4 linked regions of the Homo sapiens genome follow. The protein of the gene in region 2 interacts with the protein of the main gene of each other region in a pairwise test. Each region holds a gene or a part of one and is shown on either strand. Other genes may lie near its edges.

What was found.
Region 1: the proteins of BEND7 (region 2) and LYAR interact in binary tests that used the Homo sapiens proteins (3 or more experiments, as listed by UniProt).
Region 3: the proteins of BEND7 (region 2) and CHD2 interact in binary tests that used the Homo sapiens proteins (3 or more experiments, as listed by UniProt).
Region 4: the proteins of BEND7 (region 2) and FAM124A interact in a two-hybrid assay, tested with the Homo sapiens proteins (one large-scale study listed by BioGRID and IntAct).

Annotation. Positions count from the first base shown.
Region 1 is NC_000004.12:4,273,155-4,276,654, forward strand, and holds part of LYAR (cell growth-regulating nucleolar protein), read right to left. Parts: intron 1,616-3,500; coding exon 1,213-1,615; intron 516-1,212; coding exon 429-515; intron 1-428. UniProt on the Homo sapiens protein: Plays a role in the maintenance of the appropriate processing of 47S/45S pre-rRNA to 32S/30S pre-rRNAs and their subsequent processing to produce 18S and 28S rRNAs. Also acts at the level of transcription regulation.
Region 2 is NC_000010.11:13,501,515-13,505,014, reverse strand, and holds part of BEND7 (BEN domain-containing protein 7), read left to right. Parts: intron 1-1,421; exon of another isoform or gene 1,422-2,154; intron 2,155-3,500.
Region 3 is NC_000015.10:92,938,324-92,941,823, forward strand, and holds part of CHD2 (chromodomain-helicase-DNA-binding protein 2), read left to right. Parts: intron 1-1,254; coding exon 1,255-1,395; intron 1,396-3,498; coding exon 3,499-3,500. UniProt on the Homo sapiens protein: ATP-dependent chromatin-remodeling factor that specifically binds to the promoter of target genes, leading to chromatin remodeling, possibly by promoting deposition of histone H3.3.
Region 4 is NC_000013.11:51,274,398-51,277,897, forward strand, and holds part of FAM124A (protein FAM124A), read left to right. Parts: intron 1-3,500.

The sequences.
Region 1 (3,500 bases), on a different chromosome or scaffold from region 2:
TATATTGGGCTTATTTAAATTTCAAAGATAACATACATTTCCAAACCAGACTGCTTTACTTTTCTCCTTAAAGACAGTGGGTGAGAGGCACTGTAAGACTGACTCACACACCCTAGAGAACTGATTTTACTTTCAAATTCTTATATATACCTCTGGAGGGTAAGACCCTACTAGAAGTGCCCACATTACACCTTCCTTCCCCAGAAGGGGGCATCTCTCGGCCCCTCTCCCAACCTACAAGGGACCGTGTATTTCTCTCTTTTCTTTTCTCTCTCTCTCGCTTTTTGAAAGTGGTACGCCCATGGCTCACTACAGCCTCACACTCCTGAGCTCAAGTGACCCTCCTGCCCCTGCCTCTGAAGTAGCTGGGACTATCAGCGAGAGCCGCTGTGCCCAGCCGTGCTCCTCAAATGACAGCAGTGATATACCTTTTGCAGGAGCCTCATCGTCTTCTGGTTCTCCGCCCTCAGGATGCTCTGGGAGCTTCATCTTTTTCTTCTTAGAATCTGTTTCAACTAAGTATTTGGAAAGATTTTTTTTAAAGAAGATTTTGCATTTACGCTAGCAGCTACCATTTAATGAGACCTTATGCGAGCTAGGCAAACTCCACGTATCATCTCATTTCTTCTCCAAGCTGCCCAGCCCCGGTTTATAAAACCCCAGGAGGGTTTTATCCTCCTCCATGCTGGAGATGGGATGAAAGGAGTTGAGAAGTGAGGTCATTTGCCTGGGCAGGGCCCACCTCTGCCTGGCCACAAAGCTTATGCTCGTTCCCTTACTTGGTTCAAAACATAAGGTCTAGCTAGGTGCGGTAGCTCATGCCTGTAACCCCAGCACTTTGGGAGGCCGAGGGGGGCGGATCACCAGAGGTCAGGAGTCCGAGACCAGCCAGGCTAACATGGCGAAACCCCATCTCTACTAAAAATACAAAAATTAGCTGGGTCTGGTGACACACGTCTGTAATCTCAGCTACTCAGGAGGCTGAGACAGAAGAATCGCTTGAACCTGGGAGGTGGAGGTTGCAGTGAGCTGAGATCGTGCCACTGCACTCCAGCCTGGGCAACAGAGCAAGACTCCGTCTCAAAAAAAACAAAAAAAAAAAAAACCACACACACACGCACACAAAACGCTAGGTCTAACAGGCTTAAATATCCCAAATTCACAGCTTTCCCGGTTTTCAGATGAATCCCAGAGCGTGAGCTAGCCACTTACCTTCCGAGTGCCTCCGCTTCCTCTTCCCTGCGCCCACGCGTGCCTCTTCCTCACTGGCGCTGTCCTTGCGCTGCTTCTTCTTCTTGCTCCTCTTCCCTGCAGAGCCATTGGCCTCAGGGACTTCCTCCCCACCAGCCTCAAGGTCAGCCTCCTGTCCCTTTTTGCGCTTCTTAGGCTTCTGATTCCTTGAGTTTTCCTGGTGGTTTTCTAACTTTAGTTCTTTCTTTTCTCTTTTCCTTTTCTTCTGCCGTTCTTCCTTTCTTTCTCTTTTATTCTTCTTCACCTCCCCTTGCTGTTCCACGGCGTCTTTCACTTTGGAGGCTGGAACCTTGGTGGAGATTTCTGCATGTGGATTTGCCACTGGGTGGAGTGGCCGTTGATCCTGTTCCTTATTGACTGGTTCCTTATCATTAAGCAAAAGCAAGAAACACATATTCATTTTAAATGTGTAAATAGAGTTGTCACGTTATTGCCTGGGCCTACTACATAAACTGTTCAAGAAAAACGGTTGGTTTAATCCCTTATCGTTTTATAACTGTGACCCCCACCAACAGCTAAAATGTAGCAGTAAATATACAAAATGGGAAACCACTTCCCCCAGTCCACACCCCTCTGTCTGCACAGAACAGACATTTTCATTCCACTGGAAAAGTGAAGAATCCTTATGTCGCTGAAGATAAGACCTTTCATTCCAGCTCACTATTCACCTTTTAGATAAGAGAAGAGTACTTAGGGGTGGTAGAAACCACTGGATGTTATGTGTCTGCAGACCTGGGTTCAAGCTCCAGTTCTATTAATTCCTAGTCAGGTGACTAAGGGCAAGTCATTTATCTTTTCCAAACCTATTTCCTCATCTGTAAAATGAAAGGTAGTAATACCTACCTCACACACGGACGGATGAAACGAGGAAAGATCCGTCATGTGCTTATTAGCATAACACATGCCCAATAAACCAGCCCATTGTGTGTGAAGAGTTTTGTAAATTATCAGCCTTAGAAAATGGTACTGTTATTATCATCATTATTCAGACTGGAAAGTTACCATTAGAAGAATGGTCACCATTCTCATCATTCTTTTTTTTTTTTTAATGGGGACAGGGGTCTTGCTTTGTTCTGTTGCACAGGCTGAAATGTAGTGGCACAATCTCAGCTCACTGCAACCTCCAGCTCCCAGACTCAGGCAACACGCCTGCCTCAGACTCCCAAGTAGCTGGGACCACAGGCGCAAGCTATCAAAACCGGAAAATTGTTTATTTTCTGTAGAGACGGGGTCACCATTCTTTACGTATGGAGGTGTCTCTCTAATGGTTACCCCTGTTAAATACATTACCTCATTTATGTATTTTTTTTGGGACAGAGTCTCACTGTCACCCAGGCTGGAGTGCAGTGGTGCAATCTCAGCTCACTGCAACCTCCACCTCCCAGATTCAAGTGATTCTCCTGTCTCAGCCTTCTGAGTAGCTGGGATTACAGGCATGCACCACCACACCTGGCTAATTTTTGTATTTTTAGTAGAGACAGGGTTTCACCATGTTGGCCAGGCTGATCTTGAACTCCCAACCTCAGGTGATCCGCCCGACCTGGCCTCCCAAAGTGGTGGGATTACAGGTGTGTGCCACAGCGCCAGGCCTTGCATTACCTTATTAAAATCAGCACATAGAGCCTACTTTAAACAGTGACATCAGCAAGTTCAGTCCCATTCCTTCCTGAACTCCCTCCCTGAGCCCCTTTCTCAAGAGATGACCTGGAGCAATTCATTGAACTGTTCCATGTTCCCTGATGCCTCTGGAGGGAAAGAGAGTGGCCAGTGGCTGCTTCCAGGTGTGAGAAACCACTGAGCTGATGCACCTGCAGGCGGGGGTTCAAATTCCGTCTCTGTTAGTCTAGCCAAAGGACAGGGTAAGTTACCTACAGTCTTCCTCCTTTGGGAGATTGTGGGTAGCAAGGACTATGTCCTCAAAACTGGACCAAATAAAAAAGGACAAGCTTTCACTAGAGTGCAAGGACTCAGGACTCAGACCTTAAGGCTCGATCCTTGGCTACAAGAGCAGCATTAGAAAATGGATACTGGGGAGGCTGAGGCAGGAGAATCACTTGAACCCGGAAGGTGGAGGTTGCAGTGAGCCAAGATCACGCCACTGCACTCCAGCCTGGGTGACAAGAATGAAACTCTGTCTCAAAAAAAAAAAAAAAGAAAACGGATACTGTAGGCCGGGTGCGGTGGCTCATGCTTGTAATCCCAGCACTTTGGGAGGCCGAGGTAGGGAGATCACCTGAGGTCAGGAGTTT
Region 2 (3,500 bases):
CCACGTAGTGGATCCTTCCCTCCTAGCCAAGTTAAGGGCAACCTTGTGTGTTGACTTCTGTGTTGCCCTCACATGTATCAGATCCTGCAAGACTATGTGTCATAAATTCTTTGCGTAAAGGAACGTGATCTAGTAGAGTCTTGAAATTTAGTGAGGGGGAGAATCCAGCATACAATCTTTTTAGATCTTGTCCAAGGAGTATAGTTACTAAACTCCAAAGGATTTCAGGCTGCCAATAAGGTAGTCACGTGGCATGGATCCATTTTAGTAAGATTCCTTTGTGTTTGTTTTTCTGAAAAGGATTCAGCGTCTTGGAAAGAGATCAGGAAAAATGCACAGGTTTCCTTATAGCATCCTGTCTCGCTAGAGAGCTCGTTGCTCCAAAGAGCTTCCTTTTCCTGGTATCTATACCTGGAGAAGTCATTGACTAATGATAACTGGAAATACCAGTAGAAGTCAGTGAATGCTTCCAATCTCAATCTCCTGTATACTTTTCACCAATTTTTTTTTTTATCAAAGAACTTGGATTCCACTATGATAGAAGAAGCCTGTCTTCCGAAAAGGACTTCTAGAGCCACAAAGTGCTTGGTTAACACCTTGGTGATGGTGAAAATCCTGTGCCCCTCCTGGACTACCATGTGCCCCTCCCCGGGTTAGGGTTCAGACTCTTGCTTTAGGATTTAGGAAACCAGAGAATATTCAGTGGCTTGGCTAGTATCCAGTAGCAGGTGGGCGTAGTTAGGAGGCGAGACCAGGTGTGGGTGTAATAGCCCAGCCTGTCCTGTCCCACACTAACACTGCACCACACTCAACGAGCTTCTACGGCTCGGCCTGCTCATCTGCTCCCAGCACCCACTGTCCCCAGATTATTTAGGTTGACTCAGCTTCTTTGTCATTGTCACTTGGAGTCTTCAGGCCTCGTTTCTGATCCTCTGCCCCACCTGCCCCAAATGTGCAAGGAAACCTCTTTCTTCCTGTCTGCCAAAGCCTGTCACTCATCATTCCCTGCTGTGGAGTAGAGCCCCAGGACTCCCTCCTCCTAGGCAGCAGCTGCAGGGGTGACCTGCTCAGCTGCTTCTGCTGCTTTGGGTGAAGAGAGTGTGACTCAGTAAACCCCAGAGACCATTCCTGAACGTCCCGTCATCTCCCCTAAGAAACTTTCCACACTCTGCCCTTCTTCAACCTTCCCTGCCGACTCTCAGCTCACCTCTCAGCTCTCCTCTCAGCACAGACTTCTGCAGTTACTGCAGTTTTCTGTGTTCCATCCTTTTAGTTGTTGTTTGTTTGTTTGTTTGTTTGTTTTGAGATGGAGTCTCACCCTGTTGCCCAGGCTGGAGTGCAGTGGCACAACCTTGGCTCACTGCAACCTCCGCCTCCCAGGTTCAAGTGATTCTCCTGCCTCAGCCTCCGAGTAGCTGGAACTACAGGCGCGCGCTGCCACGCCCAGCTAACTTTTGTGTTTTTAGTAGAGACAGGCTTTCACCATGTTGGCCAGGCTGGTCTCAAATTCCAGATCTCGGGTGATCCACCCACGTCAGCCTCCCAAAGTGCTGGGATTACAGGTGTGAGCCACTGTGCCATCCTTTAAAGGATGTGTTCCATCCTTTAAAACATGCCACAGTGAGCTAGGCCGTGAGCTTACTTCCTCTGAGGAGGGACCTGCTTCTGGCCTTCTGCCCTCTTCCTTTCAGCACTGTTTCTTCCTCCTCAGTCCCCCGACGTCCTGATTTTTTGTGTATTTGTTTCGTTTTGTTTTGCCTTTGGGAGACATGTTTCTGCACACGGCAGGCGCAGCCCACCGCCAGAACCCCTCACACCTGCCACCTTCCTCCCTCATTGCCACCTGCAGCTTAGGATGCTGGTTGTCAAAATGAAAATACAAAGTTATGCAAAACTCAGGTTGTATTTTCAGCCATGTACTTTTCATAGGCATAAGTTCTGGAACTCTGAAACTGAGGTCATGACAAAGCAGATTTGCCCTCAGAAGGTTCCAGAATCCTTGTGACGCCTTCCTGTTGCTAATGGTAGCACTGTATCTATCCTAGCATTATATCTACAGAGCAGAGGCAGGACCTTTGGCAGGAGACACATCCCTTCTCCTGTGATGTGTCAGTTAGTGTAGAGAAGCAAGCTGGCATGGACTTGAGAGCCGGGGTGGGTATCTGCCCCATGTGGCCTGGCTATGGCTGCTCTGTTCAGGGAGCCTGGGGTCAGGGGTGGCGGCCACCAACCTGTGCCAGAGAAGGCTAGTCTCTGCATGGACTTCAGTGCAGGCATACCCGGCCTGATGGGGAGGGCTGTGGGTGGAAACCACACAGAAAAGATGCCTCCTCTTGCTTGAATTGTGGTGTTAACTAGCCGGGAACGTATGTGTCTGGTTGCTGAAATTAATACCGCATTTGCCTGTGGGCTTATCTTTCAGGATTCCTTTGGGACCTCTTCCAGACACACCCTGTTCCGTAGCCTCTCGAGAAAGTAGTAAATTTTGCTGACTCTGCGTTATTGAAATCTCGCTTGGTCGTTCATTCTCATAAAATCTGGAATATGATTTATTGTTTATATATTGTAATTTTCACAGGGGTTTGAAGTAGAAATAGTTTTATCTCAAATTAGAATATTTCTCCTCTCAAGCATATGCCAACAACACATAGCAATATTGTAAATTTGGAAATCTGTGTTATTTCCGTGTTCACTCATGTTCAATTAGACAGAATTAATATATTCTGTAATGTTTTTAGTATCATTTTTAAAAACTAAAGATATTTACTTCAAAATAGTGAACAGTAAATTCAAAATAAACTTCCTTATTTAGTAACATAACACATATATTAATAAGCTAAATATCTAACTGGAAAGCACAAAACGGCTAGGTTATTGTGCAGTTACCAGTTCTACAGAGAAACCTGGCTTATCCTAAGTGCAATCATTATGTTGATCCATATATATATATACATATCCTTATATATACATATATTGATCATTATAATTGATCCTAAGTGCAATCATTATATTGAATGTGCTGTGTGTATTTGTAGGAGCTGTATTTTTCTTAACAGATGCTGTCTGTTAGCCTTTTCTTTATCTTACAGTTTAAATTTCAAGCATTTATTAGAGTAACTGCATGAATGTTTACACACACATACCCTGGCCTAAGATTTTTTTTTTTTTTGAGACAGGGTCTGCCACTATCACCCAGGCTGAAGTGCAGTGGCACAATCTCGGCTCGCTGCAACCTCTGCCTCCGGGGCTCAAGCAGTCCTTCCACCTCAGCCTCCAAGTAGCTGGGACCACAGGCACACACCACCATGCTGGGCTAACTTTTGTACTTTTTGTAGAGACGGGGTTTCTCCATATTGCCCAGGCTGGTCGCAAACTCCTGAGCTCAAATGACCCTCCCATCTCAGCCTCCCGAAGGGCTGGGATTACACGTGTGAGCCACCATGCCCAACAGTGGCCTAAGATTTTATCTTTTGGGTTTGAGAAAAAAAAATTCATTTCTC
Region 3 (3,500 bases), on a different chromosome or scaffold from region 2:
AGTAGATATATATTGCAGTAAATGTACCTGATTATTTCATTTTGAATTATTTAAAAAAATTTGTGAAAATTTATTTTCTTTCATTATGTAAGGACCTATACATTGGTCCCCATTTTGCCTCTTGGCTGGCAGAGCCTAAAATATTTACTCTCTGGCCATTTACAGAAAAAGTTTGCCAACCTCTGGCCTAGGACATTGTACTTACCCCCCAACACCAGCAGGGGAATTTGTCAACTGAATTTTATCTTATTTTATCTCAGCTTAATAAGTTTATCTCAGAACTGTCACGCCAGTTCTGTCTTTTAGAATTTTGCTCATTATTTATTACATCGTTGATCATCTGTTTAGGTTTGGTTATGAGAAAGGTATGGGAGGTATGAGAGAAAGAGATAATAAATGTGATCATGAGTATCCATTTCTCTCCCTCTCTGACTTCTTTCACCTTTTTATCACTGATGGAATATTTGGGGATTTCCTTAGGTGAGCTTCTAGACTGTGGCTTTCAATCCTGGCCATCTCCCTGGTCTGTCCAAGTTAATTCTGTGATAGGGCACACAGTCTCTCAGGTAGTATTCCAGGTATATTTTATACACATACAGTAAAAACTTATGTATAGTTACTTCTTGTGCTTTACTTTCTTCACACAGATAATAGCATCCTCTGCTGCTTGTTCTGTAGGTTTCTTTATCCTGGAAATCCTTTCGTATTAGTATACAAAAAACTCTTTTTTTTTTTCTATGAGTACATGGTACTGTTTAGTTTCCAGTTGAAGAATATTTAGAGTTTTCTTAATGTTTTGTTGTTGCAAATAATGCTATAGTGAATACTTTATTATGCCTGTTTAGGTGTATATCAATAGGATTAATTCCTACAAGTAAAACTGTTAATTCCTACAAGTAAAATAGTTTGATAGCTATTTCCAGTTTGCCCACCAAAGAGATACTATCATGAACAACATGCTGTGTATGTGTTTTTATATCAGGTAATCCTGATGAACATTTGTGAAACATTCACGTTCTTTCCCATAAATGATTGAGGATTATCAGCATTAGAATGACCTTCCTGTTGGAAATCCAGATTTCTAGTGAATTAGAATTTCAGGGAGTAGGGCCCAAGAATATGCATGTTTAACATTCCCCAAGTGAAATGTTACATTCTGATGTATGAACCACTGCTCTGGGAAATACTGTTATATAAAGTAGACACCAAATGATAAAGTGAAGACTTAGCCTTTTGTTTCTCTTCTCATTTTAGAACAGTGCCCAAACCTCGTGTTAAAAAGCAGCCGAAGACTCAGCGTGGAAAGAGAAAAAAGCAAGATTCTTCTGATGAGGATGATGATGATGACGAAGCTCCCAAAAGGCAGACTCGTCGAAGAGCGGCTAAAAACGTTAGGTAAGTTGTACCCCAGAAGTGTTTCACTGGTGTGATGTGATAAAGTAGTTGGTTAGATTTTGGTTCTCATAAGTCCGGGGTTGTGCACTTAATAGATAAAAATAACAGCCTATGTCCTGAAGTTGTTTTCAGAAATCTGGTTAGCTTTCTTGCAAAAAGAGTGGTATTGAGCCAAGGGGAATAGGAAAAGAGTAGCAATAGCTCATTTGAAGCCTTCATTCCTAAAAAACACCACAAGTTCGTGTCCTGTCCAATGGTGACTTAGTGGCATTATCTTCATTTCATAACATTTTTTTCCATTAAAGATATTTGGATTATATTCCTACTTCTGAATTGCTCTTTGAATCACAGACGTTTTTCTGAGGTTCAGCTTAACGTATTGCTACTTGAATCTGATTTTATCAAGTACTAATAGGATATGAAGCATTAATAGGAATTATCATTAGTGAAATAGGCCAGGCTCAGTGGCTCATGCCTGTAATTCCAACACTTTGGGAGGCCGAGGCAGGCAGATTGCTTGAGCCCAGGGGTTTGAGACCAGCCTAGACAACAGGGCGAGACCCTGTCTCTACAAAAAATAAGAAAAAGCCGAGTGTGGTGGCGGCATGCACCTGCAGTCCCAGCTACTTGGGAGGCTGAGGTGGGAGAATCCTGGGAGATGGAGGTTGCAGTGAGTTGAGATCACGCCACTGCACTCCACTCCAGGCAAAAAAGCTAGATCCTGTCTCAAAAAGAAAAAGGAAAATGAAATAAAGGAACAGATATATGCAAACACTAGTAGTTTACTTTATAGAAATCAAGTATTTTTTTTTTTAGATTTTACAGATTTGTTCTTCATAGAGATGGTGAAAATGAATCCTAGAGATATTCATAACTTATTCAATGTATCCAGTTAATAATTCCAAAGCTAGGACTGGGCTTTGAGTATGCTAGTGTATAGCCTAGCACTTTTTCTTACTGTAACTGTACTACATCCAGGATTGTTTTTCTTTCTTGTGACTCAATCATTCATTGTTAATATGTGATAGGAAGTTACATATATAAAAATATATATAAAAAATATAAAAAATATATAAATATATAAATAAATATAAATATATATAAATATTATAAATATATAAAAATATATATAAATATATAAATATATAAAAATATACATATAAATATATATAAAAATATATATAAATATATATATAAATATACATATAAATATATATAAAATATATATAAATATAAATATATATAAATATAAATATAAATATAAATATATATATAAATATATATATATAATTTTTTTTTTTGAGACGGAGTCTTGCTGTGTTGCCCAGGCTAGAGTGCAGTGGCGCGATCTTGGATCACTGCAACCTCTGCCTCCCGGATTCAAGTGATTCTGCTGCCTCAGCCTCCAGAGTAGCTGGGATTACAGGCGCCCACCATGCCGGCTAATTTTTGTATTTTTAATCGATACGGTCACCATGTTGGCCAGGCTGGTTTCTAACTCCTGACCTCGTGATTCACCTGTGTCAGCCTCCCAAAGTGCTGGGATTACAGGTGTGAGCCTCCGCGCCTAGCCAATATGTTTCTTTTTTTAAACCAGGAAGTATTTGTGTTGAAGCTTCCAGCAGTCTGGGAATACTTAAATTTCATATTCTTATTACTGGGAGACAACATACAGGGTTGACATTTTTAATTTTAGAAATATTGCTTCTCTTTTTGCCTGATGAAATAGTAGCAAATTTTTTCTTCCATTATGGTTTTTCTTTTTTTGTGTGGTAGTCTACTTGTTTACATAATAATCTGATACTAAAAAATGAAAAAAATAGAAGTGTCCTTATAGTTTTCTATATCTTGCTTATACAAATCAGTATAAATATAGAATTTTTATTTTCAAATTGAGTTAGACTCCCTACAGTTGTTTAGGAGCATTCATCAGCACTTTAGGAAAAAAAAGTAAGCTTTGAGCCTACTGTAAATGGCAGATCTATAAAACAACATGCTTTTGGAACCAAAAGGGTATGGTTTCTTATTCTAGTGACGGTTATGTGTGGCAGTTTAATTCTGAAGAGATCATTTCTCATTTATTCAGCATTATTCCTCTTGCAGTT
Region 4 (3,500 bases), on a different chromosome or scaffold from region 2:
GCATCATGTCAGCACTCAAAAGGTTTCAGATTTTGAAGCATTTTGGATTTCAGATTTGGGATTAGGAATACTCAACCTGTATTAAACAAAGCTGGTCCCTGAGGCAACTACTCAGATATTTTTTTATTTGAAAAGTTGCTCTTTATCATTAGATGTTGCTACTGCTTTTCCCAAAAATATCAGAGTCCTCATAACTTTTTTCTGTTAAAATCAAATAATATTTATTGGTATTTATGATTTATGATATATAGGCATATATCATAACTTACACACATATAAGTACCTTAAAATTACCTTAAGTTATTTTAGAAGATATGTATTTGTATCTCACATGTATTTTTGTATTTATTCATTCAGGAATATATTGAGTGCTTGCTATGTACAAAACTGAACATTTGTTTAAACACATAATTGCAGGATCAGATGTCAAGCAACCCAATTTCTAAAAGCCTCACAGAACTAAGTGAAGATTTAACAATTAACCCAGTTCCTCTAAATATATCAATATCTCCTATTTGTTGGAGTAATTTGTAAGCTCAAGTACAACTGAGAATGATAGGGACCTAAAGAATCGTGGCTTAATCAAGAGTGGCTTATTTTCTGTCCTCCCTGTGGTCATCCACAGTACTCAGGAATCCTGGTTCACAATGGCTACTGGATGCAGTAGCAAAAAGTTTTTAAAATAGAGCAAGGGGCCAGGCATGATGGCTCATGCCTGAAATCCCAGTGCTTTGGGAGGCCAAGGCAGGAGGATCACCTGAGGCCAGGAATTCAAGACCAGTCTGGGAAACATAGCCAGACCCTGTATATACAAAAAAAAAAAAAAAAAAATTGGCTGAGCATAGTATCACATGCCTTTAGCTCTAGCTACTCAGGCAGCTGCAGCAGGAGGATCACATGAGCCCAGGAGTTTGAGGCTGCAATAAGCTATAATCGTGCCACTGCACGCCAGCCTGGGTAACAGAAGGAGGCCCTGTCTCTAAAGAAATAAAGAAATAAACCAGAGTACAGTAAGTACCAGCCTTAAAGAAAAAAAGATAAATGACTTTAAAAAGAACTTCTGTTCATCAAAAGATACCAATAAGAGAACAAAAAGGTAAGCCACAAACTGGCTGATGATATTTTTTGCAATGCATATATCTAAGAAAGGTGTTAAATCCAGAGTATGCATAAAAAGCAGGCATGTCTCTAAAAGCAATGCCTAAATAGCCCATAAACATCTCATAAGATGCTCAATATCATCACTCATCAGGGAAATGCAAATTAACAACATGATGAAATGCCATTACCCACCAGAATGGCTAAAATTAAAAAGAATTACAATGCCAAATGCTGGTGAGGACGTGGAGCAACTGGAATACTTATAAATTCCTGGTAGAATTATGTATCGACGCAACCAATTTGGAAACTGACAGTATCTACTAAAGCCGCAAACATGCTCATGCTGTGGCCCAGCATTTCCACTCCTGGGAATATACCCAAGAGAAATGAGTGCATGTTGTTCACCAAATGAGGGGAAGTGGCCAAATGAGGCTTCACAGCAGCACCTTGAATTTTGTCTCCGAAGATGGCAGGTATTCTCTAAGTGCACAGACACTGGGAGCACCATGTAAAGTCATGGAGATACAAACGAGCATGAGGTGTTTGGGAGCATGGTAGTTGTAAACTGCTGGCGCACATGAGTTAGGATTCTAGAAAGACACAAGGCTCAAGGGGTAGGCCGGGTCTTGTAGAGCTTGCCAAGGAGTGAGTTTTGCCAAGGAGCTTGTTCAGGTTTGACTTTCAGAGAGATCACTCAAGAGGTATGCGGGGTGAAGCTAGGGAGGCTAAGTAACTCTTGGCAGGAAGCCACAGGGGGTGCTAATTATCACTTTGCTGCCATTTTACCAATTTGGGGGAATAAGTACTTTTACCCTGAATTATACTACCTGCCATTCTATGCAGAGAATGGAATTGGTATGTTGCTATAACTGATGATTTTCCAGAAAGCCTTACACTTCCATAATAGCGACAGGAAGAGAAGGTAGACAGATGACAATCCAGCAAGCATTTGCTCAACCGCCATCCTGTCTAGCTCAGCATCTCTTTGACAACTTTCAAACTTTCTACCAAAAACATCACTGATTTTACAAAACGTGTACGGGCTTTGTCCATTCTTAGGGTGAACTTTGCCCTTTCCATCCAAATCCTCTTCCTGTACTGACCATTCCAGAAAGACAACACAGGCTTTGCCCATGGCCAGCATCCTTAGTGAGTGTGTGAAAACCACCCAAAGGAAAGGGAAAGGAAAAGCAAAACATGGTATTTTTCTTTAGAGCAAGACTCTGATTTCTCAATGTGAACCCGTTGCCCAATTTTCTTGAGACAGCCCCAAATTTGTATTAGTCCCTGTGTTAAAATGGCCATCACGGGCTCATTACACAGCAGACATTGTCACACTGCTCATGTTTCTGCCAAGGAAAACACAAGAGGAAATGATCTTACTGGGAAAGAGGAGGTGTGAGGCTGAGGGTAAAGTCCCTGACCATGAACAAATCATGAGACTCTGCCAGGGCTCCTGGGGGAGGGGCAGAATCACCTTTACTAGCGATTTAAGAAGAAAAGATTCTTACCAAAAAGATAGCTGCACTCGTATGTTTATCACAGCACTGTCCACAGTAGCAAAGATATGGAATCAACCTAAGTGTCCATCAAGTGGATGACTGGAAAAAAAAATGCGGTATATATAGCATGGAATACTCCTTAACTATAAAAAGGAATGAAATCACATCTTTTACAGCCACATGGTTAGAATTGGAGGTCATTATCTTAAATGAAATAACTCAGAAACAGAAAGTCAAATACCACATGTTCTCATTTAGAAGTGAGACCTAAACAATGGGTACACATGGACATGCAGAGTGGAATAAGAGACACTGGAGCCTCCACAGGGTGGGAGGGTGGGAGGGTGACCAGGGGTGAGGGCTGAAAATTACCTATTGGGTGCGCTGTTCACTATTTGGGTGATGGGTACACTAAAAGCCCAGACCTCATCACTATGCAGTATCTGCACATAAGAAATCTGCACTTGTACTCCCTAAATCTATAAAAAGTAAAAAATTAAAGAGAAAGAATTGGCCGGGCATGGTGGCTCACGCCTGTAATCCCAGCACTTTGGGAGGCCGAGGCGGGTGGACCACGAGGTCAGAAGATTGAGACCATCCTGGCTAACATGGTGAAACCTTGTCTCTACTAAAAATACAAAAAATTAGCCGGGTGTGGTGGCACGTGCCTGTGGTCCCAGCTACTCAGGAGGCTGAGGCAGAAGAATCACTTGAACCCAGCAGGCAGAGGATGCAGTGGGCTGAGATCGCGCCACTGCACTCCATCCTGGCGACAGAGCGAGACTCTGTCTCAAAAAAAGAGAGAAAGGATTCTATCCATGTGCCAGGGTATGAGCCTCTTGACACCCAGATCCTTGAAAAAGATGCTTTGCCTCAGTGGTCCGCCGCAGACCCCTT